Linked DNA regions of Homo sapiens. The protein of the gene in region 1 interacts with the protein of each later gene in a pairwise test. Each region holds a gene or a part of one and is shown in the gene's direction. Other genes may lie near its edges. The genes, in order: NEK2, ANAPC4, RHOB and CDC27.

What was found.
Region 2: the proteins of NEK2 (region 1) and ANAPC4 interact in binary tests that used the Homo sapiens proteins (3 or more experiments, as listed by UniProt).
Region 3: the proteins of NEK2 (region 1) and RHOB interact in a two-hybrid assay, tested with the Homo sapiens proteins (one study listed by IntAct).
Region 4: the proteins of NEK2 (region 1) and CDC27 interact in binary tests that used the Homo sapiens proteins (3 or more experiments, as listed by UniProt).

The regions. Positions count from the first base shown.
Region 1 is NC_000001.11:211,665,038-211,673,065, reverse strand, and holds part of NEK2 (serine/threonine-protein kinase Nek2), read left to right. Parts: intron 1-1,781; coding exon 1,782-1,864; intron 1,865-2,658; coding exon 2,659-2,785; intron 2,786-3,733; coding exon 3,734-3,953; intron 3,954-5,834; coding exon 5,835-5,960; coding exon of another isoform or gene 5,961-6,004; exon of another isoform or gene 6,005-6,649; intron 6,650-8,028. UniProt on the Homo sapiens protein: Protein kinase which is involved in the control of centrosome separation and bipolar spindle formation in mitotic cells and chromatin condensation in meiotic cells.
Region 2 is NC_000004.12:25,373,360-25,381,290, forward strand, and holds the start of ANAPC4 (anaphase-promoting complex subunit 4), read left to right. Parts: upstream 1-3,903; 5' UTR 3,904-3,985; intron 3,986-4,058; 5' UTR 4,059-4,068; coding exon 4,069-4,197; intron 4,198-7,014; coding exon 7,015-7,120; intron 7,121-7,931. UniProt on the Homo sapiens protein: Component of the anaphase promoting complex/cyclosome (APC/C), a cell cycle-regulated E3 ubiquitin ligase that controls progression through mitosis and the G1 phase of the cell cycle.
Region 3 is NC_000002.12:20,442,935-20,449,940, forward strand, and holds RHOB (rho-related GTP-binding protein RhoB), read left to right. Parts: upstream 1-4,139; 5' UTR 4,140-4,531; coding exon 4,532-5,122; 3' UTR 5,123-6,506; downstream 6,507-7,006. UniProt on the Homo sapiens protein: Mediates apoptosis in neoplastically transformed cells after DNA damage. Not essential for development but affects cell adhesion and growth factor signaling in transformed cells. Plays a negative role in tumorigenesis as deletion causes tumor formation.
Region 4 is NC_000017.11:47,116,633-47,123,753, reverse strand, and holds the end of CDC27 (cell division cycle protein 27 homolog), read left to right. Parts: intron 1-1,134; coding exon of another isoform or gene 1,135-1,153; coding exon 1,154-1,310; intron 1,311-2,736; coding exon 2,737-2,819; 3' UTR 2,820-6,051; downstream 6,052-7,121. UniProt on the Homo sapiens protein: Component of the anaphase promoting complex/cyclosome (APC/C), a cell cycle-regulated E3 ubiquitin ligase that controls progression through mitosis and the G1 phase of the cell cycle.

The DNA.
Region 1 (8,028 bases):
AATATCTAGTAGCCAAGAATTGAAAATACTGTTATATTTTTCCACATGGACCACCAGACCAATAAAGTCTATATCAGTTTTTGTTTGCTGCATGAGTTATGTGCATTAATGTAAGTATGATGAAGACAGATTCCTAGTCTAAGGTTTGCGCCGTTTGTCATCTCTCACTGGGTTCAATTTTTTGAGCATTCATGCAAATTAAAGCATATTCAGTTCAAGCTTTTATGGAATGACTATGATGCATTAAACTCAAGGATTACAAAAATGAAATGGATTTTGTCCTTGCCCTCAAGAGTTGTTTCCCAATGTGTAGGTCCTAGTTATCTGCATCAGACTCACTTGGAGTGTTTGTTTAAAATGCAGAGTTCTGGGTCCCAAACCCAAACCCAAATCCATCGAGTGAATTTCGATCTCTGGGTGGGTTCTTGAACTCTGTTTTTTTTTTTTTTTAATATTTTACTTTTTATTTTAGACTTTGCATTTAAGAGGCTCTGTAAATGATTCTTGTGTATGCAGAATCAGAGCTCAGGAAGTTTGCTCACTTCAGATAGCATGTTTTTACAATGTTAACTTTTTGTACATTTTATTTTTTTGTTGCCTATCCCTGAAATATCTTGCTGAGTCCACTCACCAATTACCTCTATTGCTGGATATTTTGTTTCCAACATGTTTCACCATTCTTAGAAGTACTGCTCTGCATATCTTTGTATGAATTATTCTTTCTTCCTTTTTGGTTATTTCCTTGGAGTGTAGCTCATAAAATGAAATTGCTGGGGTAAATGTTTATGGCTGTTATTAGATATTGTCTGATGGCTTTTAAAAAGTTTAAGTCAATTGTGATAGCACTAATGTGTTAGTATATAACATCTGAACAGATAAAGATGAAGAAATATTTGTTAGTATTTTAGTAGTTCACCTTTCTAGGATTTTCCAAATATTTATAAATTATGTTAACAGATCTTACTATAGTATAAAACTTTGTAAATTAATGATTTTGGTTTTGACTAAAAATAGCCAGAACAGTACCATTTTCTCACTGTATCAAATTCCAAATAGAATGTTTTTAACATAAAGGACAATTATCCAGAAGTGGTTCTTGGGAAATTTGAAACCTATTCTTTTGTTCCTTTTCCCTCCTGCCCTTGTAATTAGAGTGGTTCAGCTTTCCTAAGGCACTGATTGTCAAAAAGTGGCATCAGACTCACCAGTTGGACTTTAAAACACTAACCAGCCACTAGAGATTGCTTCTATTCCCTCTGTTGAGAATAGGAGCTCTGGTAGGCTGTTGTTACTGTAGATGTGGAAGAAAGGCAAACAATAAAATAGGTAAGGATAATATTAGTTACTACTGTGATTTATGGAGTGGACTAAGACAAAATATAAATGGATAATTCAATTAGCTATTTATGTCTATATCCATTTAAATGTGGACTAGATACATATTTTGACTATTCTTAAATTTCCTCTAGTTCTTTTAAAATGGTGTTTCTTAATTTGCCTTGAGAGTAGAAGTCTCTCATATTCACCTCTGTATTGTCAGTGCCTAGTCTATACTAAGCACTTTCATTTGTGAATGGAAAATGAGTGAATGAATTATGTATGATGGAGTGTATTGGAACAAGATCATTGCCTTTTTTCCATTATAAATTTCAAGATAAAGTATAAGCTAAAAACTTTGAGGTTCTGTTTTTATCTCAGGAGTAATTTAATGTGTTTTTTAAGTTTCAAAACAAAATAAACTCTTAACACCTTCCACTTTCTTACCCTTTTTCCCTGTATAGGAACAAATGAATCGCATGTCCTACAATGAGAAATCAGATATCTGGTCATTGGGCTGCTTGCTGTATGAGTTATGTGCATTAATGTAAGTATGATGAAGACAGATTCCTAGTCTAAGGTTTGTACTGTTTGTCACATTTCACTGGGTTCAGTTTTTTGAGCCTCTGTGCTAACGAAAGTATATTCAAGTCTGAAAGAATTGTACCCTGGGTAAAATTAAGGTAGATAGATGAACAGGCTAAAAGAAACTATTCACAAATTAAAACTATAAGCCATGAGGCTGGGTCTTGACTGTTCAAGGGTCTTGGCTGGTTAGGTGCTTTCTTATTAGATTGACACTTAGCTCAAGGGAGAGCACATAGGTCAGGCAGGTAAGGTAAAGCTACTGTAAGGATGTGGAAGAAATGAAACAAGACTCGGGTAGAGGTCTGGGGATCTGTAGAGCAGGGAAGAGCTCCAATTCTTTTCCTTTGTTCTTCTTTTCATTTTCTTTCCCTTTGAAACTATTCTGTAGAGCAGTGATTCTCAACTAGGGATAAGGGAAGCAAATTTGCCTCTTATGGGGCATTTGATGATGTTTGGATAAATTTTTAGTTATCACAGCTGGGGAGTGCTTCTGGCATCTAGAGGGTAGAGGGCAGGGAGGCTACAAAATACCTATAATGCACAGGACAGCCCCCCACAACAAAGAATTATATGACCTCAAATGTCAATAGTGCCAAGGTTGGGAAACTTACTTATAAGAAGAAAATCCCAGAAGTAGAAACTTAAATACAAACTGGAGCTTAAGCTGTGCTTTTGATTTAGTTCCTATTGTATATTTTCATTTTTACAATTTGAAAATGTCTTCGTCGTCTTCTTCTTCTTTTTTAACCCTAGGCCTCCATTTACAGCTTTTAGCCAGAAAGAACTCGCTGGGAAAATCAGAGAAGGCAAATTCAGGCGAATTCCATACCGTTACTCTGATGAATTGAATGAAATTATTACGAGGATGTTAAACTTAAAGGTAAAGATGATAAGATGATATATTGTCTGTTTCTAGCTGTCAGTTAAGTGTCAGAGCATACATTCTCTCTTGTAGATCAATGGAGACTGAAGAAACGTTAAATATACTTTCTTAGCTAAATTTACTGTGTTAACACAAGTGAAAACATATGTAAATTTGGCAAATTGCACATCCTTGCTGGCCCACCTTCTGCGCTTTCTTTATTTCTCCTCCCACTCTGTCATGCTAACAGATGGTCGGTAGCAAGGAAAGATTGCAAAAAGAATTCAAATTCTCGTTCCCCTTGTCCTTGCCTACCTCACAGTGGCAGGTAGTGAGGGAAGGGGCCAGAAATAAGAGTTTATTACTCTGCCTCTAGCTCTAATTGAGAGATTAAAGACCAGAAGAAGGGGAGGGGTGATGGAGGGCGGACGGAGGACAGCTAAAAACAGAGGGAAAATCAATAAAGAGATTATGTGGAAAAACTCTGGCTATAGAATGGGGAAGGAGATGTTCTGGGGACCAGGCTGACATAAGAGAAGAAGGAAAATGCCGTAGGATCACAGAGAAGGATACAGATGAAGTGACAGGATTGAGAGTCAGTGAGAGAGTATCTTGCTAAATGTAGTTTAGAAATGCAAGGGCAGTACTTCCCCTAAAACAGACCCTAGCAATGCTACCAAGCCCCAGCACAAGATGTGCCAATCTTCAGGGATTGAACCTTCTTAGAAAGGTGAAAAGGGGAAAAGGGAAAAAAGGTAAGTTAACATCTGCATTACCTTGTGGACCCAGAACCTCATGAGTTAAAACCACCAGTGAACTTATTTTTCCAAGTTTTTAAGACCTAGCCATAAAGGAGTCCTTTCTTTTGTCTTGGAAACACATTTTTGTCCTTTTATTTTAACTGCTGTCTTAGGAGGACTATTCTGTTATGCAATCTGACTATAATACTGAGTATTTTTTCCCCAGGATTACCATCGACCTTCTGTTGAAGAAATTCTTGAGAACCCTTTAATAGCAGATTTGGTTGCAGACGAGCAAAGAAGAAATCTTGAGAGAAGAGGGCGACAATTAGGAGAGCCAGAAAAATCGCAGGATTCCAGCCCTGTATTGAGTGAGCTGAAACTGAAGGAAATTCAGTTACAGGAGCGAGAGCGAGCTCTCAAAGCAAGAGAAGAAAGATTGGAGCGTAAGTCTGAATGGGGGTCAAAGCAAAGGAGAACTACCAAGTGGGTTATTTTGATGTGTCTGAATATCTCTTTGAGCAGAATATTTTATACATACAGATCTTATTAGAAGCTTTTGAAAAATACTTGAGAAACCAAAATATGTATTTTAGACTTTTTAATAATCAGGCTTGCTGGCACCTTCATGTTGGACATCTTTCTCTGAGATCAGTTGCTAGTTATATATTATTGGGCCTTAACTGTGATGGCCCTAATACGATAGCCTTGTATTTTACTCTAGAGTTACTTTTTTCTTTTTCGTCTCTACTGTGAATACCCTAATGTTTTCCCACTGTAAAGGAAGGTCTTAAAATTGCTGCTTTCCATAATAAAAAACCATGACTTTTGTCTTTTGAAATGGCCACTCCAACAGAATTCCAGGTCTAAAACCCTACAGTATGTAGATGAGATATGTTCAGGCAATTCTTTTCTTTTTTTTTAACTTTTTATTTTTGAAAATGAGATGGGGTCTCACTATATTACCCAGGCTGGTCTTGAACTCCTGAGCTCAAGTGATCCTCCCATCTTACCTCCCAAAGTGCTGGGATTATAGGTGTGACCTACCACACCTGGTCTGTTCAGGCAGTTCAATAGAGAATCTAGATACAAGATATTTTAAGTCTATAAATAATACTCTGGTGGGTATTAACATTGACTTATGAGTATTAACTGATTAGATGCTAATTTAGTTTTGATATTGAAAGTGTGTCTACTCCACCAAGATGAGAGCTACTCGCAAGCATTTAGGGTTATGCAAGGTAGCTACAGAGTGAGGTTCTTCATTTTAACATCAGGAGACGAGAGATGGGGTCGTATTTGTGACCTGTCACCCTCATGACTCACCTGATTTTACTTCTGCAGCTTTATGCCCAATCCAGGCTTTAAATAATGAAATATTGTATAGTCCTGTGAGATATGCTTACTGTATAGGTACAACCTATACTTACTTGGAAACCTCTGTAAAAAATAAGAAAGCTTTTTCTTATAACTTTCCCCAGTGTTTCATAATTTCTTTTCTTTTTTTTTTTTGAGATGGAATTTCACTCTTGTTGCCCAGGCTGAAGTGCAGTGGCACCATCTTGGTTCATTGCAACCTCTACCTCCCGGGTTCAAGCAATTCTCCTGCCTCAGCCTCCTGAGTAGCTGGGATTACAGGCGCCTGCCACCATGCCTGGCTAATTTTTGATTTTTTAGTAGAGATGGGGTTTTGCCATGTTGACCTGGCTGGTCTTGAACTCCTGACATCAGGTGATCCACCTGCCTCGGCCTCCCAAAGTGTTGGGATTACAGGCGTGAGCCACTGTGACCAGCCATAATTTCATATAGCAACTGAAATCTGAATACTTTCTGAATTTGGGGCCATGAATAAATAGTAACATTTGTTATTAATACTAATCCTATGAACTACCACCTAACTGAATTGTGTTTTTTTTCTTTTGTTTGGGTGTGGTCATTCAACCAGAAGAAGGAGATTTTTGTACTGTGAGGCCAGATCATGCCCTGAAAATTAGCTGTTGCTTATCTTCAGTGAAGAGCAGAGATAGCTTTAGTTTTTTGTTTTCCCAAATGAGTTACTCCCACAAAAGATGACCAAAGGTTGAAGCTAACTTTGTATTTGTTTAAACAAGTCCTTTCAAGAAAATCTAAGATAACATACAGCCTACTAAAACACTCAATTAAAAACTAACATAATCAGGTTGACTGAGGCATAGTGAGAATCCTTTCCCCAAACATTGCTTATCAGTATCAGGCATGCTAGTAGTGATAAGATTGCCAAATGTAAATTGTTTTTTAGTCAAGGTCAGTTGTTAATTTTTTTTTCTTTGTCCATTCTCTTTTTAAAGAGAAAGAACAGGAGCTTTGTGTTCGTGAGAGACTAGCAGAGGACAAACTGGCTAGAGCAGAAAATCTGTTGAAGAACTACAGCTTGCTAAAGGAACGGAAGTTCCTGTCTCTGGCAAGTAATCCAGGTATGAGAATCAACTTGGTCAACAGAAGCTGGTGCTACAAATGAAGAAATGTGCACCAGTGTTGCTCCCAAAGTGGCTTAGGTAGCCCTTTTCATTTACAAATCTCAAATTTTAAGATGGATTTCATTGAATATATGCATTTCAATGGAAACAAAATTCTGTTATAGCAATGATTTATTTCCTGGGTTCATAGACCTGAGGCAATGAGTCATAGAATTTCATGTTTGATTTTCTTTACCTTATCAAACTACATGTTTAGTAATTGATACTTATTTTTATTATCATTATTTATTTTTTTATTTTTTTTGAGATGGAGTCTCACTCTGTAGCCCAGGCTGGAGTGCAGTGGCACAATCTCGGCTCACTGCAAGCTCTGCCTCCCGGGTTCACGCCATTCTTCTGCCTCAGCCTCCCAAGTAGCTGGGACTACAGACACCCGCCACCAAGCCCGGCTAATTTTTGTATTTTTAGTAGAGACGGGGTTTCACCGTGTTAGCCAGGATGGTCTCGATTTCCTGACCTCGTGATCCGCCTGCCTCGGCCTCCCAATGTGCTGGGATTACAGGCATGAGACACCGTGCCCAGCCGATACTTATTTTTAAAAATTAGGGCATTTACAAAACTATTGTATGTTTCAGATTTCAGAGAGATAAACTGCATTTCAAGTAAAAATAAACATTTTAATATTGCCATGCCTCATTTTTCATAGAAAGCATGGCTTAAAAGGCATGATAAGCCACCTGCAGAATAGGCTGTCACGTTTGGATCTTTGCTAACACCCTTTCAAGTTGAAAGACATATTTGTTGAAATTTGATTGTTTAATATCTACATATGTTCTCTGCATTTCCTTCTTTATTTAAAGTCTGGTATATAGATATTCAGCTTTCTCAGGGCCCTGCCTTTGTGTGGCATTGTCCCTTCACTCTGCCGCACTGAGATGTGGTTATCGTATATACCAGTGAACCATTGTCTAACATTCTCCATTTTATAGAAACCCTCAATCTAATTTAATCGACTCTTTAAGATTATGTAAAATGCAAACTGTGAAACATCTTTTTGCTTGATTTATGACACAAACTAACTGTTAAAAGTTGTTGGTTTCAAAAATCGAGCATCTGAATTTTCAATAAAATTTAGAGTTTTTATAACTCCCTTATTCCATGTAGGACAGCATATATGAAAGCTATTATTCCCATCTTTAATAAATTGAGATGTAGTGTGATCAATTTAGTGAGCATTGGCAGCATTTTGTAAATGGAACAGACAAAAAACCCTACTTAAGTTAGATTGATGATCACAATAACTTTGTAGTGAATAAGTGATGGAAAGAAATGAAACTACTGATAGAAGTAAATGAAACAAGGATTATATGAAACTTTGGCTTCATCTCTGTTAAAATACCTTCTTTTTTCCCAATATTGCAGTCTACCATTTCAATATTATAAAAATATTTATTCTGGCTTTTCATAGATTCCACACTGTCATCCATAAAGACAAAATAGACTTAAATCATGATTAGGGTGATAAAATGAGGAGAAAATTTTACCTGGATGAATTTCATGCATCAAACCCATTGCAGAGAATTACTTAAGACCCTGTTGGGGATGGCTGTTCGGTTAAAGAGTTTATTTACATTTGCCCTGATAGTCTTTGAGCAAAAGATGAAAATAGCTAAGTAAGGATGATGTGTTTTACTTTATAGGATACACAGATAAGTATGGGAATCTACTTATATGTGAATCATGGCAAATATTTAAAATGAGCCATAGGAATCAAGTATCCACTGGGGCAAGCAGACATTTTAGGGTATTGAGTGCTGAAAGTAGTGAACACATCAGAGCTATAAGATAAGCATCATAGCAGTGGGGAGCGGGTACCATTCTGAACTCAGGACAGTTGGAAATATTCTCTCCCCATCCTTGGGCTATAAAATCCACACGTGAGGAAGCCATCACAAGTATATTGAAATCATCACAGCAAGCAGCAGTGTCTTTTTTAAAAGCTGTTCTTTTCGTATTTGATGAAATATTCATTCTTCTATTTAATGGAAGAATTTTAAAAATGTTT
Region 2 (7,931 bases), on another chromosome or scaffold:
TGACCTCAGTTAATGGGAAGCAGGCAGCCAGGCTAACACATTTCTTCACCATCTAGGTAGTAGGTGCTCATAAATACCAACTGAGTGAACGGAAATGCCATTTAATATACCGCTTTATGCCTCACACCTTAACTATACTATGGAAGAAGCAGATACACTTCGAGCTCTCTAGGTAGGACAGCTTCCACAAAATCTAAAGGAAAATCCAGTTTCACTTATTTGATGTGATTTTAGTTGGACCATGAGGACCTGGGCTGAAATTAAGGGTCAACTAAGAAGGTCATTGCAATAAAGTAAAGATAAGATCTCTGCTATTTGATTTCAGGCAATTTAGTATAAATGTTAACTCAGCAAGATGAGGCTATAATAGCACCAACATTGAGCAACAAGATCTCAGAGCCCTGAGAGGCTGAGTTTTATCCCAGTTGTCTTTGGTGGAACAGTTAGTTACAAGATCCCTGGTTTAACTGCTTCATACCACTGGATACTAGAAGAGGTGAAACAGCCGGTAATCTCTAAGATGGTAGGCCTGAATAGATGGGTCAGTTTCTTCATCTGCAAGTGTGGAGAGGAGGAGTGGGAGAACACTAGAGGAAGTCAGCCCAAATATTCCACATGCTTAAAGAAGACAGGCCAGGTGCGGTGGCTCACACCTGTAATCCCAGCACTTTGGGAGGCCAAGGGTTGGGGGGGGGTGTGAAGGGTGTGGATCACCTGAGGTCAGGAGTTCGAGACCAGCGTGGCCAACATGGTGAAACCCCGTTTCTACTAAAAATACAAAGCCGGGGATGGTGGCGGGTGCCTGTAATCCCAGTTAGTTACTCGGGGCAGGATAATCACTTGAACCCGGGAGGCAGAGGTTGCAGTGAGCCGAGATCACGCCATTGCACTCCAGCCTGGGCTACAAGAGTGAGACTGTCTCAAACAAACAAAAAAAAAACAGAGGAAAACAAAGGTTGCTGCCTGTTAACTTTACAGTTAATACATGAGCCAGGTAAATCAAGGAAAAATAAAAGCATCTCTAACCCTACCACCCAGAGATAATCACTATTATAACTTCCCTGTCTACTGTTCCAAAGATAGGTTCTTGCATAAATAGGCTTACAGACACATGCAAAAATTTCCCTCAAGAAAATGGAATTTTAAGTACATACTGTTTTATGACCCATGCTTTTTCATAAGTATACTGTGAACATCGATTTATGTCTGCATAATATTCTTCAGGATAGATATATTTTTTAAAAATCTATGATGGGACATCTAGGTTGTTTGCATTTTTTCACTTTCGTAAATAACCTTATAATGAACATGCTTAAGTAAATATTTATTTCTCCTGCCCTTGCCTCCTTAAAAAGCACTGATAGCCGATCCCTGAGCCTTCTTCCCTTTTTCTCTTTATTCTGCAGTATTTTCCTAAGGATGGGGGAGGCAAAAAACGGAGTAGGTAGAGCTAAAATCTTTATGGGGCAGTGGGAAAAAGAAAAGGCTGGAAACACGATGTGTTAATATTTCTTGTCTTACGGCTACTTTGGATCATTTCCAAGAACAATTCCTGCCCCTTACTGCCTACCAACACACATGAGGGTCTATAGCAAGCTTGTCTAACTCGCAGCCTGTGGCCCAGGAGGGCTTTGAATGCAGCCCAACACAAATTCATAAACTTTCTTAAAACATTGTGAGATTTTTTTTGTGATTTTTTTTTTTTAGCTCATCAGCTGTCATTACTGTTAATGTATTTAATGTGTAGCCCAAGACGATTCTAATGTGGGAAGACAAAAGATTGGACACCCCTGGTCTATAGCAGCATAAAACTCTGCTGTTTCCTGCCCACATCTGGAACTCCACACTTAGGCTGTTTCCTTTGCTGTAAGGCTTAGAAAATTTATATTCTGTGAAGACTTAATGTGCAGGTGGTTATACTCTGTCCTTTGCAGTACGGTGTTTATGCCTCTGGGAACAGTGATTTTCACGTGCTGTATGGGTGTTTGTATTCAGGTAAGTTCCAGGAAAATGGACATTCAATTTCCGTAAGAAGGTTAATGTGCATAGATACTAGACCCCCACCAGGTGATCCATTATAACTGCCCCAAAACACTAACACCTGAAAATGCATTTTGTGAAAAACAAAGGCAAATGCATTTTTACCTTAGAAATGTTGATTCTGGAAGAGTTGGGGGCACTTGGTAAGTTGTTTGTGGCAAAGGCAAGGGCTGCAAAGCCCGTGACAGGAAGCAGGGTAGGTATAAAGTCAAGGATTAAGAACAGTACTTGGCACAAAATAGTTACTTGATGCTGAATGAATTAGTCTCCCTCCGTCATCTACTTCCCAGGGGCTAGATCCAGACAGAGGTCAAGAAGATGGGGCCTGTTGAAAGTTAAAGGACCTGCCGTCTGTTTCTTCTTTGAACAAGTGAAAGGTAGTAAAAAGTAGATGGCTTTCTACCATAGGTTTTAAGTTTAAGAACCCTAGGATGGTACTGTCACATTCTCTTAGGGAGGTCATAGCTGTGGGAACTGTCAACAGGTTGACTCATTTAAATGTGTCCTACATAAAGCAACATCAGATGAGTTCTGATTTACAAGTCTGCCAGGCTGGCCTGTGAGCCTCTGGGCAGAGTTCCCGTCCCATGCATTGCTGTAGCCTCAGTTCCTCCACATAGTAAATGCCCAAGTACCTATAGAAGAAATCGTGTGTGAGCCCACACTCTTTTTTTATATTTTAGAGACGGAGTCTGGCTCTGTTGCCCAGGCTGGAGTGCAGTGGCACAATCTCGGCTCACTGCAAGCTCCGCCTCACTGCAAGCCCCGCCTCACTGCAAGCTCCGCCTCACTGCAAGCTCCGCCTCCCGGGTTCACGCCATTCTCCTGCCTCAGCCTCCCCAGTAGATGGGACTACAGGTGCCCGCCACCATGCCTGGCTACTTTTTTGTATTTTTTAGTAGAGACGGGGTTTCACCATGTTAGCCAGGATGGGCTCTATCTCCTGTCCTTGTGATCCGTCCGCCACGGCCTCCCAAAGTGCTGGGATTACAGGCGTGAGCCACCGCGCCCGGCCCTGAGCCCACACTCTTTATTCGTTATGACGGTGCTGCAACTACCAATAAGTTGTGAGGGTTAAATGGGATGAGATGTCACAGTATTATTTGCCTGTTAGGGAGGTTTTAGGGCACGCGCCTCTTCTCTCCAAATTGGAATCACCCAAAGAGTTTTAGTAAATACTGGGCCCATCCAGGGTTAATTTTCTTCTAATTGGTTTGGGGTGCTGCTTGGACAGGGGGACTTTTAAAATTCTATACTGACCCACCAGGACTGACATGAGAACTACTCGCTTAGTAACTGTTAGAGGAGGCGCCAGCTGATCAGGACCTAAAGTTCATATTCTTTTTCATCTCCCCGTTGTCGCTGAAGCCTACCCCATAAACCCCTACCGTCCCTTTGCCCACAGCAGAGAATTTCCGGGAAAACGGGAAAGGTATGCAAGCATGCCCACACACGTGCACACACGGGTTCCCAAAAGACCTGCGTGTGGCCGCAGGGGCCTGCCCCGCCCTTCTCGGGCCCTTTCAGGTCCCGGCGCCCAGCGATCCCACCAGCACCTGGGTCCGGCGCGCGGCTCCCTCCCTCTCCGCGCCCCTCGGGGCTCCCTGCCCCGCCCGCGTGCCCCACCCTTCCTAGCTCTGCCCCATCGCTGCTCCCTGCCCCGCCCACGGGCCCCATCCTACCCCCACCTCGATCCGCCCCTCGCTCCTCCCTGCCCCGCCCACCGCGCCCCGTCCCTGTCCGCCCCTTCTGGCTCTCAGCACCCCCAAGACCGGTGCGCGCCCCGCCCCTCCTCCTCCTCTCGCGAGGCAGTCCCGACGCCGGAAGTGCCTGGAGCGCGCGACAGCGGCGGGGCGGGGCGGCCTGGAGGCTGTGGCGCGCGGCCGGCAGAGGGAGGGGAGAGGCCACTGGGGCCGTGTTAGTCTGCCGGTGGGGACTCTTGCAGGTACAGGCGCGGTCGGGGCTCCTCGTGGAGAGCCGGGGGCTCCTGCCGGCCTCTGACTGGGGTGTCGTTGCAGGGCCGTCCCCATGTTGCGTTTTCCGACCTGTTTCCCATCCTTCCGGGTGGTGGGAGAGAAGCAGCTCCCGCAGGAGATTATTTTCCTGGTCTGGTCGCCCAAGCGGGATCTCATTGCTTTGGCCAACACAGCTGGCGAGGTGAGTGAGCCGGCGGGAGCCCGCCTGTGCTGGGTCTGCTCCCGGGGGGCCCAAGAACACCGAGCCCGAGCCTGTTCATTCGGGCCACAGGCGGCCGGAGCCTCAGTTTCCCCTTCTGCAGACATGGCTGGCCACCTGCTACCCCTTCCCTGCCTCCCAGGACGGCAGTAAACTTTAAGTATATATGCGAAAGGTGATGTCTGTGCTATTTTCGGTACTTTTATGGCTAAAGTAACAGTTTTCACACAGCTTAACACCGTCACGCAATCCTGCTTCCCCAAGTCTTCTTCACTCATTGGTTTATTAGTTAAATGAACTTTTTAAAAAAGCCCACTATGTGCTGCTCATGAGCTAGACATAATGGTAGATGCAGGGACCCTGCCCTAAGTTTGCTTACAGTTTTAATAGCAGTAGGAAGAGTTATTGTCAAACTTCAGCTGCAAATGTGCCTGCATGTAGCTGCCACACAGGATATATTTAAGAACCTGGCTTCTCTTGTCCACGTTTTATAGTACGGGTTGGATAACCACCCTCCACTAAAAATACCTCTAAATTGGACAAGGAAGGCATGCATTGGATTCCAGACAGAACGTGCATGGGTGTTATCAGCATTTCTTGTTCACATAAAACTTCATCGAGTATAAACCAGTTGTACCCAACTTTCTGCTGAGAGTTATTACCTGCCAGCCATTTTGTAAGGAAACCTTCACCTGTGCATCTTTCCGCCTCTGGCTTGAGAGTTATCTGGCCATGTGAGAGTTGTATAGAGCCAAATTTGGAAACTAGGTGATAAGGAAATCTTAGCACCCTGCAGACTGTAGTCTGCACCATGTTATCTACCATGATCCAGTCGCCAGGGTATTGATGTCTAATTTTTCAGGGCCCTCCATGAAATCTAGCTAGTCTCCCTCCGCTGCCGGGATGCTTTGAAACTCTGTTGTGGCTCTAGAGAGCAGCAGGTGGTACCGTCACAGAAGTAGGAGGGAAGGTAGACGGGAGGCACATCCGTGCAATCAGATGGGTAGGCGTGATAGAGGGCACTGTTACATCCATTTTCTCAGTGAAGGAAGAAGCAAGGGCATTGTTTATGGGTGAAGATGGAGAAGAATATATTGGAAGTTTGAGGAGAAAGAAGAGGTATGAAAAAGCTAACAAAGCAGGTGGACTTGGGAAACCTAATAGGATTGCCAGTCAGTGTTAAGACCCACATGAGATCGGTGTTATTATTTGAGAGACACTGGTTGAATAAGGTTGTATGTGTCTCTCTCCGTTCTGTTTGGCTGTGTGGGTGCAGGCATGGTTGGGTTTAACCAGGATTGTCGTTTTGCAAGTATGACAAAGCAAGGCAAAGATGAAAGAGAGTTGAAGTTACGTGCAAGAGGAGTGATTGTGTTTCTGAACTTTGGGTTCTAACCTGATGAAGGAGGGAAGTGAAGGCATGTGTGGGGAGAGGGACAGTGAACAGGTGGTAGAATCAATAGACTGTATCCTGGTGAGGTCAAAGAATTGGAGTTGAGTGTTGTAGAGATGACCTGGAAAGAGGGGTGGTGGATGGAAAGTGGGAAGTTTAAAATGGAGATTTTGGTGGCCCTGCAGTTGTTGGTAATGACCAGGCCGGAGGTGTGACCCTGGGAGTGGCTGAGTGCAGTAGAAGATGTGATCACTGGAGGAGAGGTAATTGAGAGCTGAAAAGCCAGGACATCATAGCTCTTGAAATCACCAAAAATGATGATGAGTGTGTTGTTAGAAGGCATGAGCAAGCCAGGTATCCAGATCTTTAAGGAATGAGGGGAATGGCCTAGGGGTCTGTAGAGGACTGCAATTAAGACGGATAGCGAGTGGTATGGTCTGATTGCATGTGATTCAAAGTTAGGAGATTTACAAGAAGAGAAGAAATGGCATCAAGCATCAAGGAAGACACCTACTTCATCTCCTAGCCCAAAAGCAGCAGTACAGGGGCTGTGGGATACAAAATGGCCACCACCTAGCAAGGCTGCAGGGAAGCATTGTCCTCAGGTGAGAGGCACATTTCAGAGAAAAGTACGAAGATATTAATTTCATGATGACACCTGACCATGAGCTGCAGAAAGCACAGAGGAAGGGTTTCAGAAGTAAGGTATGGCAGGAGTGGTTTCAGAAAAGAGAGGGTCAAATCCAGGGGATGTTGTAACCAGGAGTGAAGGGTGCTGTGAGCTGTGAGATAAGGCAGGGTCATGGTGGCTTAGCTGAGTGTGGAAATGGGGAGGGGTCTTGGAGGAGCATGTGCAGTGGTGAGGCCTTTTCTTCCTTACTGTCAATGGTTGTATAGAAGCTGCAACGGGGCAGTCATAGAGCTCTTGGGCAACATTTTGACCTTCCAAGGTGGGAATTTACTGATGTGGAAATGGAGATTTAGAATGGTTAAGTGATATGTCTAAGATCCATGGCTAGTGAGTGACACAGCTGAAACTAGGTGCCACGTGGACTAATTCCAAGCTTAGTATAATTTGACTGTATTACAGCTAGCTACCTTTTTAGTGGTGTTTGTGTTCTTTTATTTCTTTTTTGGTTGTCACCTTGGACAGCCGCCTTCTTTATAAAAGGTAAGTCTCCCGTTGACATAAAAGATTAGGTACAGGGTTAAATTAGACCTTGTTTCACCCATTTATTTTAAAATACCTTGTGTTCATTCAGACACTGTTGTCTTTTTCTATTCTTCTGATAGCTAAGTATATATGAGAGATGGTCATTTAAAAAAATTTTTAGTAGGGATCTAGGTTTATTTTATTTTTGGAAATGAATTTTTAATTTCCTGCCATTATATCTGCTTTGTCTTAGGTTTTACTTCATCGACTGGCAAGTTTTCATCGAGTTTGGAGTTTTCCACCAAATGAAAATACAGGAAAGGAGGTGACGTGTCTGGCATGGAGACCAGATGGCAAACGTAATGATAATATTACAAAAAAAATATGTTTTTATTTTCACAAAGAGTATTCTGTAAAGCCCATTTTCAGAAAGGATTTATTGTTCTTAGTATACATAAGAATTATAAATATCACTTTGGGAACTTTTTAAAAAAAATGCCTTAAAATATTTTTATAGAACTCAGATTAATTCTGCTATCTTGTTTCTTGGCAAAGATATCTCTTAAATAAAATCTGGCTTCTTGGCAAAGATAACTCCGAAGTGAAATCTGATGGAATATACAAAATGTTTTGGTTTTGTTCTTTCCACTGTCATCTTGTCCTGTATTATTTGGCCCAAGCACCACTTGCCACTCGCCAGTGAGTTAGTTCAAAGCCATCATGGCCTTTTTCTTTCACAATATATTTTAGCATGAAATGTGTGGCTCATATTCCCTTGGTGCATGTGTGTTTGCCTCACCTGGGGGACTATCACCTTTGACCCCATACCTTCCATTTCTGTGTGTGATCTTTCTTCTGGTACCCTCTTACGTTAAAGCCTGTTATGGCTCTGGTGACTGAACTCTCCTTTTCCATGTAATGTTTTTACAATGACAGTCTGTATTGGAACTGTTGTACACATACAATCAGCACAGTAAAATGCTGTAAACCCTACAGCTTAAAGTTCATTTGTATCATTGGTACTTTAAGAAAAAAGTGAACTGTTTTTGTAAAATATGTGTTGTTCTTTGCTTAATTTTTCTGTAGATAAATATAAAGTATTTAAAAATTTTATTGGTGCTTTAAGAAAAAAAGTGAATTGTTTTTGTAACATATATGCTCCTCATTGCT
Region 3 (7,006 bases), on another chromosome or scaffold:
ATGAATTATTATTACTTCTAACTATACCAGAGTATCCAGCAATGGCTTTCTTAACTGGGGCAAAAACGGAATGATTTTTGTGGCTAAAGTTGTTTTAAATTTCTGTACATTATAATAAACGAAAAGTGAAGTCCATTAGTCTGTAAGTTAGTGAAGATCCATAGACTTTATCTTTCTCTTCTAATTTCTTTTAGAAGTTACTATTTAGGAAGGAATTTTTTTTTCCACTGAATGGCATTTTCGTTAATATTTTTGTAAAGTGTATATGAAAAAGTTATGTGTGTATAAATACATATGAAGAATTTCTAAGAATCTACTTGTAAAACATTATTCAGAGTTTTATATGCTCTGAAATATTTTAAAATAAAAATATCCATAAAATGCATACTTTTTGACCAAAGGTTTTCTTTTCTTTTCTTTCTTTTTTTTTTTTTAAGAAAAAGACCCCATAAAGATTGCCGCAAGGTGGCACTAAAATCTAATGAAAATTCCAACTCTGCTCTGGTCTTTGAGGAGTGTAGAATGATTTACAGGAGACACCTGGCAAACAAACAAAACCAAATAAATTAGGTTAAAGATTAGAGATAGATTAATATCCTCCTTTTGTCTGAAATACAACTTCCCTGTCTCACAGGTGTGGATATATTATGTCATAAGATGAATATGTTAATAAAGTTAATTGTTAACATGACTTGTTCTTGGCTGGTGGCGGTGGCTCACGCCTGTAATCCCAGCACTTGGGGAGGTCTAAGTGGGTGGATCACTTGAAGTCAGGAATTTGAGACCAGCCTGGCCAACAAGGGAAAACCCTGTGTACTGAAAATACAAAAATTAGCCAGGCATGGTGTCACACGCCTGTAATCCCAGCTACTCGGGGGTCTGAGGCAGGAGAACTGCTTGAACCCAGGAGGCCGAGGTTACAGTGAGCCAAGATCATACCACTGCACTCCAGCCTGGGTGACAGAGTAGGACTCTGTCTCAAAAAATAAAATAAAATAAAATGACTTGTTCTCATAGAAGAATCAAATTTTATCCCTGTCTGAGGAAGTGTATTATGAAGGGCAAGGGACAGGGAGGGGCTTGTCCGGCATATCACCTAGTTGGGAAAAGTTTATCCTGTGTGTGGGGCAGTCTTGGAAGCAGCCAGTCTCTGCAGAGCTTGTCAAAGTATCCTGGACTAAAAAAAAAAAAATACCATGAAAAGAAGTTACTAAAGAAGTTACTGCAGAACACAGATCTATTTGTTTACTTTGGCATTTTTACCAACTGCATAGTTTTAGAAATTATTGCAATATTGAGATTTGAGCTTGGAACACCTCATATAATATTCCTGGAAATCAGAACACGAAGGAGTTCAATCCGTTTTCCGGATTCTTTGTTTTTTAAAGAAAAAAACACATGGTACAAAGCTTTGTTTCATATTTCTTGGTATTTGAAGTTTAAGGACATAGCCAAGTTTCCCAAGCTATATTAAGACCAAGGAAAGCGGCGTTAACAATACAGCTATAAAAGGTTTTGACTAAAAGAAGAAAAATTTGTGTAAATAAGACTTTTCTAATAGGAAAAAAAAAAAGCTTCCAGATTGCATCCTTAAATCAATGAACAGAAAAACTATTTACTTGCTGACAGATCAGTTCCTTAGATCTGAAAAACAAACCCCCGCCCCCCACCGCCCCGGCCAACAACAACAAAAAAAAGCTGGTTGGCCGGTTGTTGTAGTGATGTGAATCCAGTCTGAGGGAAGCACAGCACTTCCAGTCGTCTAAATAAGACGTTCCCTCTAGGAAGGGCTCTAGGCTTAGCAGCACTACTGCCTTATTTGATCTGATTTCATCTGTGGAGCCATATGGGGACCTAGCTCTTAACATATGAATTACATGTGAAAACACCGGGGTTCAGTCACAGTTGGCTGCATGGGTTTGCTTAATGATTTTCTTTTTAATGTTTACTTTTTTTTTTTCTTTTGAGCCAGGGTCTCATTCTGTCACCCAGGCTGGAGTGGGGTGTTGTGATCATAGCTCACTGCAGCCTTGCCCTCCTGGGCTCAAGCAATCCTCCCACCTCAGCCTCCTGAGTAGTTGAGATTATAGGTGCAGGCCACTCTCCTCCCCACGCCATCCCATTTTATTTTTCTCAGGGACAGGGACGGGGTTTTGTCATGTTACCCAGGCTGGTCTTGAACTCCTGAGCTCAAACAATTCTCCAGCCTGGGCCTCCCACGCCCAGGGATCACAGGCATGAGGTACTGTGCCCGGCCTGGTTAGATAATTGTTAAAGCGAAGTGTGGAACTGAGGTAAGAAACCCCCAGAAAATTCCACCTGCGTTTCTGAGCATTCGGGTTAATTCCCCACAGTCATTTACTGATCCTTGTAAATGCCAGGCATTGTGCTGGGTCTTCAAGATGCGGAGATAAGACAGAATCCTGGCCCTCCAACAACTGACAGAGACCGAGACAGAGACGGAGACAGGAGGCAACCACCTCCCGGTCATGTGGTGGGTCCCTCCTTTGCTGAAAAAACAGTTTGCAGACATTTCCCATGCAATGGATAGACAGAGCCCAGCCCATGCTGTTAATACTTTAGCACTCATGAGCCCCAGCATATGCAGCTCCTAGAGTTTGCCCCGCTCCTTCCCACCTTCCTGCTTGTGTTCAGGCTGTTTCTCCTGCCCGGGAGCCCTCCCCGACTCCCCTTTCCCCCTATCCCCTTCTTCCTCTTTTATCCGTAGAAATCGGTTGACTTGGGTCTTTCCGGATCACCGGTACTGTCATTTCATGCAGGATCTACAGGATAAATGAGTTCAGTCCTGGCGTGCATCAGGAGGCTACGCCCCAATAGAGGGGACACCCCCTAACCCGCTGTGCCCCATTTGCTAGCCCCTTACTCCTCCCCTCTTCTCCAGCCTCAAGCCTTTTCGTCTGCTCAGGGGTCTTGGGGTGGTTGGATTCTATTGAACCCGGAATATTGTACGTTCTATTGTACAATAGTGTATATTCTATTGTACATTCTATTGTACAATAGTGTATATTCTATTGTACATTCTATTGTACAATAGTGTATATTCTATTGTACATTCTATTGTACAATAGTGTATATTCTATTGTACATTCTATTGTACAATAGTGTATATTCTATTGTACATTCTATTGTACAAGTGTATATTCTATTGTACATTCTATTGTACAATAGTGTATATTCTATTGTACATTCTATTGTACAATAGTGTATATTCTATTGTACATTCTATTGTACAATAGTGTATATTCTATTGTACAATTTATCTCAGACAGTTCTCTGTTTTAAGAACCGGGATCAGAGTTCATAGTGAAAAGAGGGGCCGAAGGGGCTTCTTCCTGTCCGGTAACTTCCTCCAAGTGTTCGAGCCTCGACCTTCCCTTTCCGTTGTCAAGCTTGGGCCACTCCGCACCTCTTCCCTTAATCTTCACCTAGAGACCTAAGCTGGGGGTTGGGAAGGGTAGGGGCGGCGGGACTTGGAAGAGCCAGTTTGCAGCCAGCCGGTCGCCTCTCGGGTCCAAACCCGAGGCTGGCCCACGGCGAGTACCCGGGTGGGGCCCTAAACCACAGGAGGGGCCACCTCCAAAAGAAAAGAGAAAACACTCTTGTTTGGGAACAAAAGTGTGTGTGTGGGGTGTGTGTGTGTGTGTGTGTGTGTGTGTGTCTGTTTATTTAAAAACAAAACCACGTTAAAAGAGCTGCCCCTCCCCCACAGGCCCGACCACCCGCCGGGAGTTTGCCAGGAAGAGGGGCAATTCTGAATGGGAGTCGCCAACGCCCCACTGAGTGAAGCCTGTCTCGGAACCGCTCGCCCAGACCCTGGAGGCTCCAGACAGCCAGCTCCCGGACCCCGCGCGCAAACGCTGCGGCGAAGGAGGGGACCCGGGTACCGCCAGAGCCCCGCAGCGGCAGCAGCAGCGCGGACTCCCCGGTCGCTGCCTCTCCCAGCCCGGCGGCCTGGGCCGTCAATCAAGCTGGCCCTGCCCCGCCCTCGGGCTGCAGGGGGCGGCCAATCAGAGCTAAGCTCCGCAGCGATGAGCTCAGCCGGCTGGTTTCCCATTGGACGGCTATATTAAGAAAGTGGCCGGACTCTTTAAATAGCGGGCGCTAGGGCCGCAGCCCTCATCTGCCACCGCAGTCTGGTTGGAGCTGTTGTCTTGTATGCTCAGCGAGGCCCGGAGAGACCCGGGAGAGAGCTAGGCCGAGTCCACCGCCCGAGTCTGCTGCCCGAGCCCGCGTTACGCACAAAGCCGCCGATCCCCGGCCTGGGGTGAGCAGAGCGACCACCGCCCGGGAGCAGCGCGGCGAGACGCACGGTGCGCCCTATGCCCCCGCGCCCCCACCGCCCCCGCCGCGGCAGCCGAAGCGCAGCGAGAGAACGCGCCACCGCGGGGCCCGGGTGCAGCTAGCGACCCTCTCGCCACCTGCGCGCAGCCCGAGGTGAGCAGTGAGCGGCGAGCGGGAGGGCAGCGAGGCGTTCGCGGGCCCCCTCCTGCTGCCCGGGCCCGGCCCGCTCATGGCGGCCATCCGCAAGAAGCTGGTGGTGGTGGGCGACGGCGCGTGTGGCAAGACGTGCCTGCTGATCGTGTTCAGTAAGGACGAGTTCCCCGAGGTGTACGTGCCCACCGTCTTCGAGAACTATGTGGCCGACATTGAGGTGGACGGCAAGCAGGTGGAGCTGGCGCTGTGGGACACGGCGGGCCAGGAGGACTACGACCGCCTGCGGCCGCTCTCCTACCCGGACACCGACGTCATTCTCATGTGCTTCTCGGTGGACAGCCCGGACTCGCTGGAGAACATCCCCGAGAAGTGGGTCCCCGAGGTGAAGCACTTCTGTCCCAATGTGCCCATCATCCTGGTGGCCAACAAAAAAGACCTGCGCAGCGACGAGCATGTCCGCACAGAGCTGGCCCGCATGAAGCAGGAACCCGTGCGCACGGATGACGGCCGCGCCATGGCCGTGCGCATCCAAGCCTACGACTACCTCGAGTGCTCTGCCAAGACCAAGGAAGGCGTGCGCGAGGTCTTCGAGACGGCCACGCGCGCCGCGCTGCAGAAGCGCTACGGCTCCCAGAACGGCTGCATCAACTGCTGCAAGGTGCTATGAGGGCCGCGCCCGTCGCGCCTGCCCCTGCCGGCACGGCTCCCCCTCCTGGACCAGTCCCCCGCGAGCCCGGAGAAGGGGAGACCCGTGTCCCACAAGGACCCCACCGGCCTGCCTGGCATCTGTCTGCTGACGCCTCTGGCTTGCGCCAGGACTTGGCGTGGGCACCGGGCGCCCCCATCCCAGTGTCTGTGTGCGTCCAGCTGTGTTGCACAGGCCTGGGCTCCCCACTGAGTGCCAAGGGTCCCCTGAGCATGCTTTTCTGAAGAGCCGGGCCTCAGAGTGTGTGGCTGTGTGTCTGTTCGACTCCCCTCGCCCCATTTTCACCCCACCCCCGCCTCTGATCCCCGGGGGCGAGATTGGCGCGGGAGTGTGGCCGCGCCCCATCAGATGTTCGCCCTTCACCAGCGGGAGCTTGATATCCCTTGTCTGTAACATAGACCCCGGGTACTGCGGGAGGGGAGGGCTGCTGGGGAGGATGGGGGGATGTTATATAAATATAGATATAATTTTATTTTCGGAGCTAAGATGGTGTTATTTAAGGGTGGTGATGGGTGAGCGCTCTGGCCCAGGCTGGGCCAGACTCCCGCCCAAGCATGAACAGGACTTGACCATCTTTCCAACCCCTGGGGAAGACATTTGCAACTGACTTGGGGAGGACACAGCTTCAGCACAGCCTCTCCTGCGGGCCAGCCCGCTGCGAACCCTCCACCAGCTACCGGAGGGAGGAGGGAGGATGCGCTGTGGGGTTGTTTTTGCCATAAGCGAACTTTGTGCCTGTCCTAGAAGTGAAAATTGTTCAGTCCAAGAAACTGATGTTATTTGATTTATTTAAAGGCTAAAATTTGTTTTTTTATTCTTTGCACAATTGTTTCATTGTTTGACACTTAATGCACTCGTCATTTGCATACGACAGTAGCATTCTGACCACACTTGTACGCTGTAACCTCATCTACTTCTGATGTTTTTAAAAAATGACTTTTAACAAGGAGAGGGAAAAGAAACCCACTAAATTTTGCTTTGTTTCCTTGAAGAATGTGGCAACACTGTTTTGTGATTTTATTTGTGCAGGTCATGCACACAGTTTTGATAAAGGGCAGTAACAAGTATTGGGGCCTATTTTTTTTTTTTCCACAAGGCATTCTCTAAAGCTATGTGAAATTTTCTCTGCACCTCTGTACAGAGAATACACCTGCCCCTGTATATCCTTTTTTCCCCTCCCCTCCCTCCCAGTGGTACTTCTACTAAATTGTTGTCTTGTTTTTTATTTTTTAAATAAACTGACAAATGACAAAATGGTGAGCTTATGATGTTTACATAAAAGTTCTATAAGCTGTGTATACAGTTTTTTATGTAAAATATTAAAAGACTATGATGATGACATTTATAAAATGGCTCTTGTGGTTTAATAGTGTGTAAAAATACCCTTGTGAATTTGGAACAAGGGAGATATTCTCCTAGGCGAGATCCTTTCTTGCCAACTCCGTTTCCCTTATAGCAAATGTAGTAAATGAGGATGAAGTCCCTTTGAGAGCATGTGGGGGTTGGGTGACCAAGGGAGACCAGGTTGTTCCTGTCACATTCCTAGAGGAAGATGAGTGGATACCCCGACACCCAGTGCAAAAACTTTTGACCTATTATGTACTCAGTTCAATTGGGTGAGACCGAAGATCTTGATTTCATTCATCTGTGTGTCTTAAAAACACTTGTGTCTTTAAGTCTATTATGGGGCTTTGCTTATTCTTTGAGTCTTGGAAAGTTATCATTTGTGCATTTTAAATTTAGAAAACCTTTATTAATCGTTGGTGTGGGGTCACGCTATCAGGAAGCCTGTTTACTGGGTTCCCTTCAGGCCATCAAGGGGTTTACACAATATCCCAGGAAGTT
Region 4 (7,121 bases), on another chromosome or scaffold:
GAATAACAGATTTAGTTCTAACACTTAAGAAAATGATATCCTAGCCAGGCATGGTGCCTCACGCCTGTAATCCCAGCACTTTGGGAGGCCTAGGCAGGTAGATTACGTGAGGTCAGGAGTTTAAGACCAGCCTGACCAACATGGTGAAACCTGACCTCTACTAAAAATACAAAAAATTAGCTGGGCATGGTGACACATGCCTGTAATCCCAGCTACTCCAGAGGCTGAGGCACGAGAATCACTTGAACCTGGGAGGCAGAGGTTGCCATGAGCCAAGATCACCCCACTGCACTCCAGCCTGGGCAAGAGAACAAGATTCTGTCTCAGAAAGAAAAAAAAAAAAAAAAAAAAGTAGAAAAAAAAGTAGAAGAACATGAATGGCACTGTGTTGTCTTGATTAAGAGAAATGGCTTCTGAGAGTCCCAAGGCCAGACTAGTCAGTTTTTTACAGACTAGACCTCCATATGCCAATTAGTTAAGGTGACTGTGGACAGTTGTAAAGAGTTGATATAACTCAATTTAAAATCACTGTAAATGAAAGTTAATTAAGCAGTTTATAATCCATTTAATCCCATTATCATTGCTCCAGTCAGAGTGATATTTATTGGAAACTTACTACCTGAAAGATAGAAGCAAGGAATTCTGAAAATAATGTCTGATTATATTAAAAGGAACTCAAAAGCTGGTATGAGTTCATCTGTAGGAAGAAAATGTCCTACCCTTAGAATGAGTTTAGAGCACATAAATCAGGAGCCTAATTTAAATTATAAATATTTAGAATTGTAGAGGCTGGGCGCGGTGGCTCACACCTGTAATCCCAGCACTTTGGGAGGCAGGTGGATCATCTGAGTCAGGAGTTTGAGAGTAGCCTAGCTAACATGGCAAAACCCTGTCTCTACTAAAAATACAAAAATTAGCCAGGGGTGGTGGTGGGCACCTGTAGTCCGAGCTACTCAGGAGACTGAAGCAGGAGAATCGCTTGAACCTGGGAGGTGGAGGTTGCAGTGAGCCAAGATCGTGCCATTGCACTCTAGCCTGGGTAATAGAGTGAGACTCCATCTCAAAAATAAATAAATAAGTATATATATAGTTAGAATTTTATAGTTGAAGCTCACAACTTAATGAAAAATGTAGTGCTGCTGTTTATTTTTAGGTTTACAAGAAGTTAGGTCAAACGCACCTCGCCCTGATGAATTTCTCTTGGGCTATGGATTTAGATCCTAAAGGAGCCAATAACCAGATTAAAGAGGCAATTGATAAGCGTTATCTTCCAGATGATGAGGAGCCAATAACCCAAGAAGAACAGATCAGTAAGTATCATACATATGATTTTGAGTATTTAGAAAGTTACCTTTTGCATAAGGATTTGTAGGCTACTCTTTTATTTTATTTTTCTAACCATGGTGTTTTCATTATACCAAATGGACTTTTAGGGAAATTGAACAGGGTGATGTAATAACAAAATGCATATAAAGTCAGATAATGAGTCTCTGTTCTGGATCTAGTTTGCTGTGTGACTTTGACAAATTCATTGCTAAGTTTTACCTGGACCTCAATTTATGTTTGAATATGTAACCAGTACTGTTTTATCTGCTTCATAAAAATGTAGTTTTTTAAATAACAGAATGGAGAAATTTCTGACAAGATAAATTCTGATTAGATGCCTTTGTTCCAGAAAACTTGGTGAAAGGCTTTAATTAAAATTATAAGCCATGGGGCCAGTCGCAGTGGCTCAGGCCTGTAATTCCAACACTTTGGGAGGTGGAGGTGGGTGGATCACCTGAGGTCAGGAGATGACACCAGCTGACCAACATGGTGAAACCTCGTCTCTACTAAAAATACAAAAATTAGCTGGGCGTGGTTGCGGGCGCCTGTAATCCTAGCTACTCGGGAGGCTGAGACAGGAGAATTGCTTGAACCCAGGAGGCTGAAGTTGCAGTGAGCCGAAATCACGCCATTGCACTCCAACCTGGATGACAAGAATGAAACTCTGTCTCAAAAAAAAAAAAAAAGTATATATATGCCAGGCATGATGGCTTGCGTATGTAATCGCAGCTACTCAGGAGGCTGAGGTGGGAGGATTGCTTGAGCCTAGGATTTCACGACTAGCCAGTGAGACCCTGTCTCTAAACAAATTTTTAAAAGTAGCTGGCTGTGGTGGTACGTGTCTATAGTCCCAGCTACTTGGGAGGCTGAGGCAGGAGAATCATACCACTTGAGCCCAGGAGTTTGAGGCTGCAGTGAGCTATGATTGTGCCACTGCACTCCAGCCTAGGTGACAGAGCAAGATAGATGATTGATTGATTGATTGACTGATAGACTGACCCCATAAACCTTTTGAAACTGAAGGTTATAGTCTGTGTTTCTGTGGACTAGCAGGGAGTATTCTTAAAGTGGAGTCAGTGATTGGAGGTTGGGGGAAATGTCAATTTTTTTTTTTTAATGTCTCAGAGAACTAGCTAGTTGTAATTCCTAGGGCAGGAATAAGGAACTCATTAGGAAGAGGCAGTTTTGGTAGTTAAAACTTAAAGGTAAAATGCAGTAAGCTAATATCAGACCTATTATAAAGTTAGGAAACTTGAGTTGCATTTTATTAAAGGATATGAGGATTTTTAAGGGCCTTTATTTAGGGTTTTATCTCTCTGAATATAATACAATTTTTCTTACTTGTTTTCATGAACCAACAGGACATATTTGTCAGAAAACTTACTGTGGACTTCTGTTTTATTTTTAAAGTGGGAACAGATGAATCCCAGGAGAGCAGCATGACAGATGCGGATGACACACAACTTCATGCAGCTGAAAGTGATGAATTTTAACTTCTGGAAATCAGACTTTTACAACTGGATGTGTGACTAGTGCTGACGTGTTTCTTGTCCCTCTGTATACTGAGTCTTTACTCTTGAGCTGGCGGTGTCATCGTCCGTCACTTATACCATGAGTGTGCCACTTTCATTGGACCCTGACTGTATACAGAATGAAAGGCAGTGCAATATTTAGCTGCTAACAAGACTGGCTCTTTTACCAGTATGAATGACAATTTATGGGGGGTAGGGTGGGGAACTTTCTTTTCTGTTTTTCTTTAATCTCCCTTTGTTGGAAAGTATCATGAAAGGAAGAGTTATGCTTTATCTTGAAGGAACCATTAGATATGGAAAATAGTGATGAACCAGAGTTTCTTGGTTGCTTTTTCAAAAATTTGTTTTTATTTGGTTCTGTTCCTGATAAACAGAGTAACTGACCTTCATTTCTAGGTTCTTCAAGAATGGTGTTTGCAAGTGCCAGATGGAACAATAAAAGACGTTGCCTATAACAGTGACTTGATTGCCAAGGAATGTAAATTACCTTAAACTTGCAGTATCTCCCATAAACAAATGTAATGGGCATATTGGGACTCGTATGTAGGAATCAAATATCCCTCCATACAGTGTACTCTTATTCTTGGCAAGAATGCTTTAATGTCTAACCAAGAATTTTAATTTATTCATCTTGCTTCAAAGTGTTGATCATTGTTGTCTTGGTATTGCAAACTTTAAAATTGTTTCTTACCATATTGCCTCTTCTCTTTGAGCTCTGTGGGATCACCTTTAACATTCAGAGATGATAGAGTGGTTCCCCACTGAGAAGCCAAAACAAGGCCCTTAATAACCCCTTAAGTTCACCATATGAATCAGAAGGAGAACACTAAAGTGGAGAGACTTTTAAGAGATCATGATAGTGAAAGCCTTAATATAATCAGAATTGTACCATAACCTTGAATCTATATTTGTTCAAAACATCCCTTTGACTTTTCTAAGTGTTTGCTTAAGCAGAGTGTAAGAATGTGTGGTTACCTTTGGTTGAGATCCTTTCCATTCTTTTTGACTCTCTGCTTCAGATTTTTTCAGTAGTGTGAGTCACCAAAACATTTACTAAGAGTAATTGGGTTTAGGATGTTGGAAATTTTTAGCTTGGGGGAAAAAACATTCTTATGAAGGAGATAGGTTCTCTTCTGAGTTTGTCATAATATAGATTGGTGTCTTTGGAAAATGGCCACAATTTTAAGAATTCAATTATGCATATAAAATGATAATTATTGGAATTCCACAGTAACAGATTTAAACAGTCTTAAATTGTTTATCTCCTTTACTGTAATGTATTGAAATTTTTAGAGAAATTTTAGTTGTTAACATTTTATTAAGTGCCAGTGTCAGAATATAACAAATTATAGTTTCTTATGAATGACAGGCCTACAGTTATTATTCTGGATTATTTGATGGAGGACAAACTTACCTGTATTTGTTAGTCAAGCTGTGAAAATAAGGTGGATTACAAAAGATGTGAAAAAAATTTTAGTCTGTAGACTCAGTAATTTTCTATAATTTACTGTTAATCTCATTTGAACATGGATTAGGTACAATTTATAAATTAATTCAAGTCAGGGTCTTTAGGTATCAGGTGCCAGAGAGATATTTAACAGATTTCCCTACCTAAATTTATGTATATGTACTGTCTAAAACAATACTTTTTTAAAAAAAAGGAACAGTTGGGAGAAAATAAATATAATGAAAAATTCCCAGAGGCTAGCACTTGGATTCTAACACGTATGCTATTGTATTATCCATTAGTTCTGTAATATTTAATTTTAGATTCTTTTATTTTTTTAATTGGCAAAGCACAAGGTGCTGTATAACAGTGTCATTTAGAGTTTTATAGAAAGCTTCAACCTGAGTTCTGCGTTATAAAGCCTGGAGAAAGCTAAGCTTAGAACATAACTTGCTGAAGTATAATTATCTTTTTGTAGCAGGAATTTATGTGCCAGAGGTGAGAGTCTTTCTGGTACTGATTTTTTGAGACCAAGGATAAAAGGATCGTTTTGTAAGACATGCCATGGCAATGGCTGGTTGGGGGACAGTTTCCGCCCAAGCTTGGCCTATTTTATTTTTCCTCATACCTACTTTCAAAGTCATTTAGGTATTTGAAGCCTTATTTCCCACGTAGTAACACTTTCTGGCTTTTGCAGTTTCTTTTTTTGTTTGGTTTTGTTTTTTGCATGGAATGGGGATCAAACAACCCGAAGAAGAACACATTTTGATCAAGCAAAATGTTTGCTTCAAATTTCAGAAGTTTATTTTACAGAAATTAAATTAAGTAGTTTGACATCCTTTTCTCTGTTTCACACATATATTAGGTTGGTGCATAAGTAATTGTGGTTTTTGCCATGACTTTTATGGCAAAACCTGCAATTACTTTTGCACCAACTTAATACATCTATATACATATATATATACGCGCACACACTTGTTCAGAAGTTATGTTGTGGCCTTGGATTTGTTTTTCCCCTTGGAAATGGTTCTTAACTCTGGGATTTTAGAAGGTTAGAATATTTTTTCAAGAGAACAGTGGTACTCAAAAGAATGAAAGGTGGTCCCTACATTTTCTGTATTCATCACTTAAAATTTTTAATTTTTCCGAGAACTACAAGTAACATTTGAACCATGCTGCTGTTGTACCTTAAACAAAAACTCAGTGATAACCAGTATTTAGTCTATTAAAAATGCTCTTTTTGAAGAAAAAAGTTTGGAAGTCTCTGATTAGCCAGAGTATAGTATGAGTCTTCACTGAGAAATATGGTGACCCATTTTCTTTGTGAAAACCTGGGAAAATGCAAGTGTGGGTATGAAGTGTGTGTTCTGTTTGCATTGAAACAATGTAATTTTGTGTCTTCTTTTTGCTTTAACTGACTTATTTCAGAAATTGTACAGTGTTGAGGGGGAAAGTCTTTTCTGTTAATATATTTGCAATTCATTAAAGGATATGGAAAATCCAAATAAGTTACTTTTGAAAGCAATTTATAATCAAGTTGTTAAAGCTATATGAAAGCTGTGCCATCTGTATTTTAATAAGAAGGCACAGAAAAACAGAGATACAGTTTTATGTTTCACAAAAAACTAGAGCAATGTTTATCTAATTTTTTAAAACTTACACTCTTAATATATTTATATTTTTAAACGGTCATACTCTTTTTTAGTATTATTTGGAATATCAAAATAAATACTATGACAAAAACAATGGTAATTTTTAGAATACCTTTTTTCAAACTACAGAAGCCCCTTACCAACCAGCAGCTGCGAATTTGCAAGTCAACTGCTTATTCTTTGATCACGTGATTTCTGAAATTTCTTCAAAAGGGACACAAAGGTTTTTTTGTTCCAATTAGAATCTATTTAAAAAGGTCAGGATCTGAAAGAAGTAAGATGTAGAAACTAAATTTTACTCTAATTTGAAATTTTTTTTTTTTTGGTATCTTGGAGAAAGTACAAAGAGCTGAAGGGTTTTATTCAGACTTGAAGAAAAGGCAGTAACAGGGAAAAACATGTGAAGGTGGGGTGAGCTGGGCAGTTCCAAGGGGAACAATGCAGACCTCATAACCTTCCCTAGGACCTGCCATTTAATGTCAGCTGAACAAGGATAAACAGCAGCTTAGACATGGAGCTATTCTTTGGCTTGTTTAGCTGACAACTTATGGTTCATGAAGGTTCAGTATAGGTTTTATTTTTCTTTGTAAGTGCAAACTTTGTTTAAAAGCTATGTTTGCTGAGATCCTGGTCTATGGATTGTGTTACTTGCTTTGTGGATGGTATTTTCAATTCTCATCACTAGAAGGTAGGTATTACTTCATTTTACAAAACAGAAAACAGGCTCAGCTATTAAATGATAAAACTGGGCACTTTTGGCATTAGTGTATGTTCAGAATCTTATATTTTAGTTTTGGACTTCCTCTGGAGGTTTCAAGTCATATTTAATGGTAACTGTAAGTTGTCTTCTCTAGCATTTTTTTAAAGACAGTCTCGCTCTGCCCCGCATCCTGGAGTGCAGTAGTATGATCATAGCTCACTGCAGCCTCGAACTCCTGGACTCAAGCAATCCTCCCACCTCAGCCACCCAGGTAGCCAGGACTAAACATGCACCACGACACCTGGCTCATTTTTTATTTTTTATTTTTGTAGAGTCAGGGTATTGCTATGTTGCCCAGGCTAATCTCAAACTCCTGGCCTCAAGCAATCCTCCCACCTCAGCCTCCCAAAGCACTGAGATTATAAGCGTGAGTCACCTCACCCAGCCCTCTAGCCTTTTTTTTT